3 linked regions of the Homo sapiens genome follow. The protein of the gene in region 3 purifies or fractionates together with the protein of the main gene of each other region. This does not show direct contact. Each region holds a gene or a part of one and is shown on either strand. Other genes may lie near its edges.

The links. Proteins that work in one complex are often made in the same cells at the same time.
Region 1: the proteins of SNAP91 (region 3) and BRIP1 purify together in Homo sapiens (affinity purification with mass spectrometry; one large-scale study listed by BioGRID and IntAct). This does not show direct contact.
Region 2: the proteins of SNAP91 (region 3) and CAMSAP2 purify together in Homo sapiens (affinity purification with mass spectrometry; one large-scale study listed by BioGRID and IntAct). This does not show direct contact.

What each region holds. Positions count from the first base shown.
Region 1 is NC_000017.11:61,678,639-61,682,083, forward strand, and holds the end of BRIP1 (Fanconi anemia group J protein), read right to left. Parts: 3' UTR 501-3,445; downstream 1-500. UniProt on the Homo sapiens protein: DNA-dependent ATPase and 5'-3' DNA helicase required for the maintenance of chromosomal stability. Acts late in the Fanconi anemia pathway, after FANCD2 ubiquitination.
Region 2 is NC_000001.11:200,737,694-200,741,692, reverse strand, and holds the start of CAMSAP2 (calmodulin-regulated spectrin-associated protein 2), read right to left. Parts: upstream 2,801-3,999; 5' UTR 1,866-2,800; coding exon 1,727-1,865; intron 1-1,726. UniProt on the Homo sapiens protein: Key microtubule-organizing protein that specifically binds the minus-end of non-centrosomal microtubules and regulates their dynamics and organization.
Region 3 is NC_000006.12:83,587,102-83,590,601, reverse strand, and holds part of SNAP91 (clathrin coat assembly protein AP180), read left to right. Parts: intron 1-3,500. UniProt on the Homo sapiens protein: Adaptins are components of the adapter complexes which link clathrin to receptors in coated vesicles. Clathrin-associated protein complexes are believed to interact with the cytoplasmic tails of membrane proteins, leading to their selection and concentration.

The sequences.
Region 1 (3,445 bases), on a different chromosome or scaffold from region 3:
CAGGCAGCTAATGGTTCTATCAAATGAAACTTAAGAAACAAAATTCTTTTTTTTTTTTTTTGAGACATGAAAATTGTTTAAGGCTAGAGGATCATAAGCCTTGGTCACTTTTCCAAATTTCTATTTCCTGATGTTCTTTATTGTATTTTTCATAGCTCTGCAGTTATTTTACGTTAAGGTTTTAGCTTTCTTACATTCATTGCTTGATCTGGTCTTAAAATTTTTTTTGATTATCATCAATACTATCTATTTACAAAAGATTAACTGCATTTACCTATGGAAATAGATAATAAACCACCAAGAATTCATAAAGGTTAAATTCTTGTGTAACTCATTGAGAAATCAGCGTTTAAAAGAGCATATGCGAGAATAATTGTGTGGTAATCAAATACAAAAGAATGCCATCACTTAGAGATGACCATGATAACCAGCCTTTCAAGTGATTTGACAACAGGTGCTTTGATTTCATGAAATTTTGTAAGCAGCCCTAAAGAATTAAATATTTTAAATGCGTTTTAATATAGGAAAGTAATACAAAAAAGTCCAGTTGCAGAAAAATAACGGGGAAAAGCTTTTTGTTAAAATTAATGTTTTGAATAGAAAGATCTTAACAACAAAGCCTTATAGAAACTTAGAAACAGTGCCAAATTTAAACCCATGTAATAACTAAGTGCATAGAAACATAGTAATAGTTTTATAACACAATTCTAGACAGTTTTAAATAATTTAATCAAGTCATGAAACATCTACTCTTTACATTGTACCTTTATTCCAAGAATAAAGCCCTGTCTCTAACTGGTAGTTTTCCTGGTTTGCAGCCTGTGTGCTCTATATACTTTCAGTCCTTGAATAAATTCAGTATTAGATAATTATTTCATATGCATTGAATGTGTCACATAAATTATTTGATAAACAATCTCTACCTTATACATCTCAAAAGCTTAAAAAATAAGCCAGCCAAATAATTTTTCTTTCCTCAAATCTTTATTGTCAGTCTATCACCTATATATCTATAGTTAGGGAAGCTTTCATATAGAGCAAGGGTGCACTCCAGATATATGATTCATCTACTAATTAATAATGAATAACTTGCAATGTGCCAGGTGCTCTTTTAAAAGCATTTAGATGTTTTAACTTATTTAAATCTGTAAACATTTCTTTTAAAAGTATGTTATCAGTAATGAAAATGGCCTACATCCTACTCTATAAAGGCCAGTAGTTTACTTCTTGGAATATCATCTTGGTCAGTCATGATCTGAGGAGAATATACACCTGTTTCAACAGTGATTATCATTGTATAAAATTTTTGAAACACCTTTTGGAATTACTAAAGGGTTGTGACACATCTCTATGTACATTCTCAGTAATGAAAATTTTTAACTTCAGGGAGAATTAAATTTTGGAAAGAATAAAAAATATCTAGGCCAGGCATGGTGGCTCACGCCTGTAATCCCAACACTTTGGGAGGCCGAGGTGGGCAGATCACTTGAGGTCAGGAGTTTGAGACCAGCCTGGCCAACATGGTGAAACCCTGTCGATACTTAAAAAAAAAAAAAAAAAAAAATTAGCTGGGTGCAGTGGTGTACACCTGTAATCCCAGCTACGCAGGAGGCTGAGACATGAGAATCGCTTTAACCTGCGAGGCAGAGGTTGCAGTGAGCCAAGATCGTGCCTTTGCACTCCAGCCTGAGCGACAGAGCAAGACTGTCTAAAACAAACAAACAAAAACATATCTAGCTAGGGAAAGGGGAAAGTATTGGAGATGAAGTTGGGTAATAACACTAAGATATGAATAATATGCTTAATTTTCTCATGTAGTTTACCAATTCTAAAGGTAATTTCTTTTTTTTTTTTTTTTTGAGACGGAGTCCCGCTCTGTCGCCCAGGCTGGAGTGCAGTGGCGCAATCTCGGCTCACTGCAAGCTCCACCTCCCGGGTTCACGCCATTCTCCTGCCTCAGCCTCCTGAGTAGCTGGGACTACAGGCGCCCGCCACCACGCCTGGCTAATTTTTTGTATTTTTAGTAGAGACGGGGTTTCACCGTGTTAACCAGGATGGTCTCGATCTCCTGACCTCGTGATCCGCCCGCCTCGGCCTCCCAAAGTGCTGGGATTACAGGCGTGAGCCACCGCGCCTGGCCCTAAAGGTAATTTTAAAAGTCCTCAAAATGTTTTAATTGTAGCATTGCGAAAATAAATATCTAGCTTTCCAAGTTATTATGCACATATACCATCTGTGTCAGTCTGTTCTCATGCTGCTAATAAAGTCATACCCAAGACTGGGTAATTTATAAAGGAAAGAGGTTTAATTGACTCACAGTTCTGCATGACTGAGGAGGCCTCAAGAAACTTACAATCATGGCGGAAGGCAACTTTTCACAGGGCAGCAGGAGAGAAGAATGAGAGTGAAGCAGGGAAAAGCTCCTTATAAAATCATCAGGTCTCATAAGAACTCAGTATCACGAGAACCGCATGAGGGTAACCGCCCCCACGATTCAATTACCTCCCACTGGGTCCTTCCCACAACACGTCGGGATTATGGGAACTACAATTCAAGATGAGATCTGGCTGGGGACATAGCCAAACCACGTCACCATCGTTCCCTAAATGTAAATGAGTAAGAGCCACTTTACTTTTTAAATGAAATAATATGCTTTATTTTAACCGTTCTGGAACAAAAGCAAATGAAAATCGACTCAGAATATCAACAGACATTCCTTTATAGATTCTCAAAGCACAAAGAAATTTGTATGATTTTATAGTACTAACCGCTGCATTTTACAGATGAAACTAATTCCCTGAAGGGTGTGGTGATTGCCAATATGACTTAGCAAATCAGTGGCAGAGCCAGGTGTAGAGCCCAAGTCTCTTGTCTTCTACCAGGTATTTATTCGTTTCACTACCCTACTATCCCTATCTGTGGTTTAAGAATAATACCAGAGGAGATAAATTGTTTCACCCTTTCAAAACAATGTAAAAATTACCTTCTAATCGAGTATTTGGTATTTACTGCTCAATGATCAACTAGAAAAAATATATAATACTAGATGGGATCTAATATATTCTAAATTCTTTAACTGGTAACTTGTCAATTTAAATGTCTTTGAACTACGCTTAGAGTTGTAACATCAAATGCTATAGAAACAGGCTGTAAAAATCTAAATGTCTCAAAATGGAAGCAAAGACATACCTATATAATGATTCATTTATCCAAATGAAATGTAAAGTAAATCCTTACTGGAAATTTTGACTTGAAAATAATAGACCATACAGAATTCTTGGATAGCTCATAAAATTTCAATTCAAATTACTCACAAAAAGTCCCAATGCCCAGTGAATAACAGATGTTTCTTAAAAAGAGATCAATGAATGTATTTTTGGAATGATGTCAGAGATGAGCCTCTTTTATAATCATTTTTGATTAGACATATAGCTTCATTCACAAA
Region 2 (3,999 bases), on a different chromosome or scaffold from region 3:
CAGAAAGTAGGCCATTTTCTAGCTGGAAGCTTTTGTGTATGCATGGCAAAATTTTGATATCTGTATCCTATAAGTATCCTCTCAGTTCCAGATGGAAAGAAAATATTTCTCTTATTCCCTTTGCCTTCCACTTTATACATACTACTTTTCCACATAGGTGACTATGTAAATTTCCCTCTTTCCATGTTTTCTAAGCACTTAAATAGCCTTGATTTGCCATCCAAATAGATACCGGCTTCAGTGTGCTGCTTAAGTTAAAACCAAAATACATCTATTATTCTCACTGCTTATATCAGTGGTGCCAGAATGTTTTTATATAAAGGCAGTAACACTTTGTGTTTCTTCCTATGAGTTACGCTAGACATTCAATTTCAAAGAGATGTTTAAAATTTAAATAATTTGAAAAGGATTTACTATATTTATTCCTGATGCCAGCTTAATATCAAAGCATAAAAATTCAAGTAAAATTAAGGCTGCCATAAACATAAAATCACATCAATGTCAAGTTTCCCCAAAAACAAATTCAAATCATTTTCCAAACACTGAGATTAATCTGCTATTTAAGTAGGATGTGTAAGTCCTGAAAATACTCAGCTGTGTAAGTTTAAGCAGTAAAACTGAACTAAACCATTTACCAAAACATTACATAGTCCTAAAATTGGAAATTAGTCACCCTCCCCCTGAAAAACCCTATATTTAACATGTGGAAATTTGTGAGTACTAGGGAACTTTTCAACAAATATTTCATATATCTAAACTTCATTAACTAGGGAACAGAAATCTTGTAAAATTACTCTTAAAAGTTACCAAATTACAGAAGCATCTTCCAATGAAAAGCAGCTCTCTAATTTTTTTAACATTTCACAACATGGGCTCCTAAAGCAACACTAAAGAATCATAACGGGAGGCCCTTTTCCTGTTATTTTGCAAAGACTGGGTTATGGAGGGAGTGTTTAACTGCTACTGTACTATACAATTTCTGTGTCAACAGCACACGCCTTCGAAAAACTCATCTATTAAAAAACTTCCCAAAGTAGGGAGTTTTTGTTTCTTTTAATTTATGAAGCCAAAATACATTTGGAAAAAAGAATATGCCTCACTGATAATATGAAATGAAAACTGCACCCTACAGTCAGCAAACTGAACGCTGGTTTTAAATAACTGATTTAATAAGAACTTAACATGCGTGCAGAAGGCTGATACAGCCTTAAAGAATGACAACAAAAATTAATACTGCACTCGACACAGGCCACCTTACATCCAACGGAGCCTGAATAGCAGCCATCATTACAAATGTCAAAATCAATATAGTACTATGCACCATCCACCTTCTTGCAATAATAAAGAAACCAACTCAGATTTCTTGGTGGTGTAATCACAATTATGACTGAGGCAGAAATGTACGCAACACAATGAAGAAAATACCACAAATCAAAACCACTCTATGTAAAAACATAAAATTGCTCACTGGGGGATGGGGGGGACATTTTGCCATCCAATAAAAGGAATCTGGCCAAATCCCACCTGACCATTCACGTGCCCTTCATTGAAGACCAAACCTGCTTTCCTTATTTCTCCTTTCTTTCTCTTCCTAGCCTCCCATCATCTCCCTTAACCTGTACGAGAAGACAGGCACGGGGAGGGAGGGATTCGAGAATCGGGAACAAAAACCGAGATGTGGACCACATCAGGAGGAAGAGGGGAGGGAAAGGGTGACACCACTAACCTGTCCCAAAGGCTTTGGCCACCAGCCAGGCCAGATTGCAGGCGATTTTGGCCCTGGAGAAATCATAGTGGTCAAAAGGCTTGATGGCTGGAACAATGAACGTCTTTCTCATCTCCCTGGGGTCTGCAGCATCCCCCATCTTTCACCGCGGCTCCTCGGGATGTCCCGGCCCTAACCTTCACATGGCGTGGCCTCGCCACCACGGGGGTCGGGAGGGAGGGAGAAGCAAGCTCAAACCATCGGGGCCCGGGCGATGTCCGCCCGGGCGCCGACGGAGGAGAAGCTCAGCTGTCCGCGCCGCGCGCCTGCCGCCTCCCGCGGGAGCCGCCGCCGCCGCCGCCGCCGCTCCCGGGCATAGGAATGTGGCGGCGCCGTCTCCGTCCGTCCGTCCGCGCGAGGTCCGCCCCGTGCCCGCGCCCCTCCGAGCCACCCGCCCCGCGAGCCCGCGTGTGAGCGAGGCCGCCTCCCCTTTGTCTCGGTTTAGTCACACGGGCTTGGGGGAGGGTGGAGGCTGGAAGGGCCCGGAATTTTAAGGGAGGGGGGATGGGGGGAGCCTTCAACAATCACGTTGTGGAAAATGTCCCCGCCATCGCGATGCCCGCACGCCCTCGCCTCCCTCTCCCCTTCCCTCGGAGCGGGGAGACCCCTCAGGCCCCGGGTGGGCGGAGGGACGAGCAGGACGAGGGGGAAGCGCGGGGCGAGCTGGCCCACCCAGCGCAGCCCGGCCCCTGCCCGCCGGAGACGCAGCAGCGGAAAACGTCAAAATCACTGCGGCTCACAGGCCGCCGCCGGCCCGTCCCCTCCTCTGTGCTCCCTCCCGTCGCCGTCTCCTCCTTCCCCTGCCGCCGTCGCCGCTGCCGTCTCCCGGGTCTTCCTCCCTTGCTGACGGCGAAGGTGGTGGCCGGGGAGAGGCCGCGAATCCCAAGCTCTCAGTTCCTGTCTTATCAGTAATGTCCTTGTAATTTTTTCCTGCCCCCCTTTCTGCAGCTCGCTGGATCGTTCCCCCTCAGCCGCCGCCGCCGCCGCTGCGGTTTTCCGGCTGCGGCACTGGATGAAGGAGCAGATGCGGAGACTGAGCATGCGCCTTCGCGCGGCTCCGACCCACCCCCCCCAACCCCCGCCCCCGCCCCCGCCCCCTCCCCGCTTCCCTCCCGTCTCCGGCCCACTGAGCATGCCCAGCCTCGCTCCCCGCCCGCGCCCGGGATTCGGGGCGGCTGCCTTTTAATCATCGCTCTGGAGTACTCGCTTCAGTGGACATCCTCCACGTCCCTGGCTTTTGGCTGCTGCTGCCTGCACTGCTGAGAGAGGAAAAGGAAGGGAGGGAGGAGGGAGAGGCCTGGCAATAGCTTTCGTATTCTACTTACACAGTGCTTCATCGAAAAGAGTTGATATTTACTTAAAATGTTCATTATGTGACACACACTTTGCAGCGAACTTGACCTGCACTATCTCATTTAGCCCTCGCAATAATCCTGAGAGGTAGATGTCATTGCTGATTGTCCACGAAAGAGAGGTGGAGTTGATTAGGTCATACATGGAACTTAACCAGGATTGAGGATCTGTGGGGGCTCCAAACCTGTGTTAATTTCATGATATCGAGATATTTTCTTAACTCAGTGCTCTCCACTTAAATTTTATCTCTGAGAGGGCACACGTCCAACAATGCCTCCCCATTCTCTCAGAAAAGAGCATAAATTCTTTCACAAAACAAGCTAATGCCCTTTGTGATCTGGCATCTACAGGCCTTTATAGCTTCATTTTGTCAGAACTGCTCTCTATTTTCTTCAATGAGCATGCCTTCTCAGATCTCTACCTCCTTGCTCAGGGTGGTTCCTCTGTCCACCCAGCTTACTCCTACTGCACCTTCAAACTCCACAGTAGTCACTTCCTCCATGAAGCCTTCCCTGACAGCTGCTGACAACTTTCCAGTCAGGGCTGTCACACAGGTGCCTCCCCTGTTGTTCCCGGAGCACCCTGTTCTTATTTCTGTCGTAGCATCTGTCACATCGTGTGGCAATAATCAGTTACTTGTCGGTTTTTCCCATTGATGACATGATGACAGGGTATATCTCCAGCAGCTATACGGTGCCCAGCCCCATAGTATAATTGCTCAATTAATGGACTACATGTGAATATTATCAAAGTTAACACATACTGAGCTTACTTAAATCACTAGCTCCTCACGTCTCATTTTAATACATTATCTAATTTTATTTTTAAGTGATTGTTGTTGTTATTATTATTATTATTGAGACGGAGTCTTGTTAAGTCGC
Region 3 (3,500 bases):
TCAAAACTGCTATTACATAGACCACTGTTTTTGTTTTTTGTTTTTTTTTTTAACAAGCTGATCATTTTTCTATGTGAAAACTCATGGGGTGATCTCAGCTCAACAGGGTCATAGTGTGAAATAGATTGGTACAGTTTGCCTTGGATTACTGCTTGTGGCCCAAGTAGTATATATAGAATAAAAGGAAACAGTTCAAGGACTCAAAAATAGTAAAAGCCAAGTATTGGTCTTCCTTGGGAGCAAGACAAAGTGTGTGCTTAGTGATAGCCTTGACCTAGAAATTATTATTTTCATAAGCAAAGCATTATGAAAGACCAGTTGCAAGACCACAGTAGTAAGTTTAAGTTCAGATTATTAGTCAAACTCACAAGACATTGTTGGCTTACCTTACTCTGATTTTACTTAGACAGGTACATAACAGGAAGCACAACAGTAGTTTCACAGAGGACTCAGTCACTCAGATGCAGCTTCTGAGGCCCCTCCACAGTCACCACAAGGGTTGAATTTTGGTCCTAAGGTTGACAAGGGGCTGACGAGAGCATGGGTCACATCACCACTGGGAAGCTGCCATGCATGTCTGAAGTCTTGCATCTTAAATACCGTGCTAGTGCTAGCCATGTAGACCTTGATAAAGCATATGAATAGTTCCCTTTTTTAGTGTGGATATAGCCCATAAAATTACAAGTTATACAATAAACAATCCTGGCACCAGGTACAGCAAGCTGAGGAACATTTATTCTTGGATTAGTGGTGAGTAATGGCAGATGCTAAAAGACCCTCATCAGCCTTCAGAGTTGTAGGGAGTTTGAGTTGAGGTCAAATCTTTCCTCAGGAAGCTAAAGCAGGTAGTCGTAGCCCAGCTGTTAACCTTTCCTTCCATCAGTAATTCAGACTGGCTATTTAACAGTCTTTCCCAGGGGCAATAGTTCTCTAGTGTCTTTCCCATCCTTTCCTGACTACTATGATCAAACATAACAGTCTTGCATGCTGAAACCACTCATACCAGTGACTACCACTAGGTATTTTCCTCAGCACTGAAGAACCAGGGCCCCACCATGATATTGCTGAGAACTTATGCTGAGAAGCTAGCATAAGAAATTTTAACTTACTTTTAATTTCCGTAGGGCTTAATTTTGGGGGCTAATTTTTCATACTTCCCTGTTTTGTTATAGAAAAATATTTCTCACCCTTGTTCAAGTATCAAAACATAAGGAAATCATATTCTCACTAAAGAACATCATGGAATATTTGGAAGTTGCAGAGATGATAAGAGGCAGTACACTTAACACAAACCACAGCTGGTTACTTGGAGAAATAAACTGCTAGTTTGCCTGGCTTTTATCCAGGCCTAGATATTCTTATATCAGCTTCCAATTGGCTACAGAAACTTTCAAACTCTTACTAAACCAATAAACTTCATACACATTTTGGGGGTTCAGCAATAAGATTTTAACATGCCACAGAAATAGCATAGTTTTAATGGCTATTTGAGGGATCATGACCTTGTTAACTTTAAAATGAGATTAGTGATTACAAACATTTTGCTTTGAAGTTATAATTAAGATTAAAACGGCCCATAAAATCAAATATTCTGGCCTTTCACAGAAGCCTATGAATTCTTTCTTTCTCTCCTGGGTATCCCATCCCCTGCCACAGATCTCAAATGGGAATTTGAAGCCTACCAGACAGTAGCCTGGCAGAGCGGTCAGCCACTGTTGACCACCTCCAGTGCTACACAGCCACATTGTCTACTCCAGGATCCTCCTCCATTGTGGCCTCTCTGTGTCCTCCAAGGCTAGAACCTGAGATATTGTGTTTCTCAAAGAGCCCAGAACACTAGAAACTGGAGCTGAAAGGCCTTTTCCTGTGGGAAAAGGGAGTGTTCCCATCCAATTCCAAGTTAGAAGTCAGTAACAGAGCCAAGAGATTTGACCCTGGGGGATGCAATAAGAATCTAAAAACACATCTAGAACAAGCCTGAAGGGGTTTGTCACCTGCTGCCAGGTGTAACTGCACATACCTGTGCCACAGCTGCACAGCTTGGTATATGGACAGGTCCAGCAGGGGAAGTCTACAAAAAAAGTATGTTAGTTCACTTTACAAAAAATAAAATTATTCAATTGTGTTGTCTATTCTGAAATCTTATTAAAATGGGGTAGAAAAGAGGAGAAAATCATCAATGAAAGTACCCAATGTCATCTACATAGGTCTCATTTACTACACACTTTCCATTTCTTCTACTGCATCTTCTTGTGACTCTTTCAGTGATAGGCAAAGTTATATATTGTGTACACTTTCTTATTTCTCTCTTTTCTATTTAAATAAATTAATATTCAATGTAAATCAGTATAGATGAGTTTAATGTCTCATTTGCTTTCAAAACAGTTCTTGTAATTTAATGTATACATATGTCAGTGCCTGATTTATTTGGCACAATGTGAAATATTATTTCACCTTATATCCTGATATAAGGGGTTGGATGCAGTGTCCCACAATCATAATCCCACCACTTTGGGAGGCCCAGATGGGCAGGATCACTTGAAGTCAGGAGTTTGAGCCAGCCTGGCCAACATGGTGAAACCCTAATCTCTACTGAAAACAAAAAACAAAAATAAGCTAGCATAAGAAATTTTAACTTTTAATTTCCATAGGGCTTAATTTTGGGGGCTAATTTTTCATACTTCCCTGTTTTCTTATAGAAAAATATTTCTCACGCTTGTTCAAGTATCAAAGCATAAGGAAGTCATATTCTCACTAAAGAACATCATGGAATATTAATATAATTCTATCCTGTGAACTAGGAGCAACTTTCCTAGCCAAAAACAAAAAAATAAAAAATGAAAAAAATTCTGCTAATAAACGCAATATAAAACCACAGTCACATTTATATTTGTAACCTAGCTGACAATTGGCTGTTTCTGAGTTTTCACAATTCTCGTACATTTTTATTTAATGCATATTAAGTAGGACAAATATTTGGGGCACTGTGTGTAGTAATTTGCAGTGAAGCTTAGCATTTGTATTATAGTTGTGTCTGTGTTTATTTGGGGGAGGGATCAGCTAAGTCCACAGTCTATTGAAACTAAGAAGATTTTTAAAAAAAAATAAATAAATGAGCCTAGTCATACATAGCAAGCCCACAAATATGATCAGAATCAAAGAGAGAGAAGAGAGAAAAAGATTCTCTAGAATCCTGTGATTGCCTTTAGTAATAAAACTGTTTTGAGAAAGAATGAAAAAGAAAAATAATATGCAGACACTGTCATGGGAGGTTTAGACTGTTCAAAGGGAACCTTGGTCACTGGACTAAGGACTCTTACCCCATGCCTAAGATTAGATTTTTTTGAGTGAATACATTTACATGTGAATCATAAAGATAAGGCAATAAATATATGATATAATTAAATTTTAAAATGATTTTAGAGATTTTAAACTAAACATTAAGAACCATTTTAAAATTGAGGCGAAAGCTTTGTTAAAAATTGGTATCATTTTGAAAC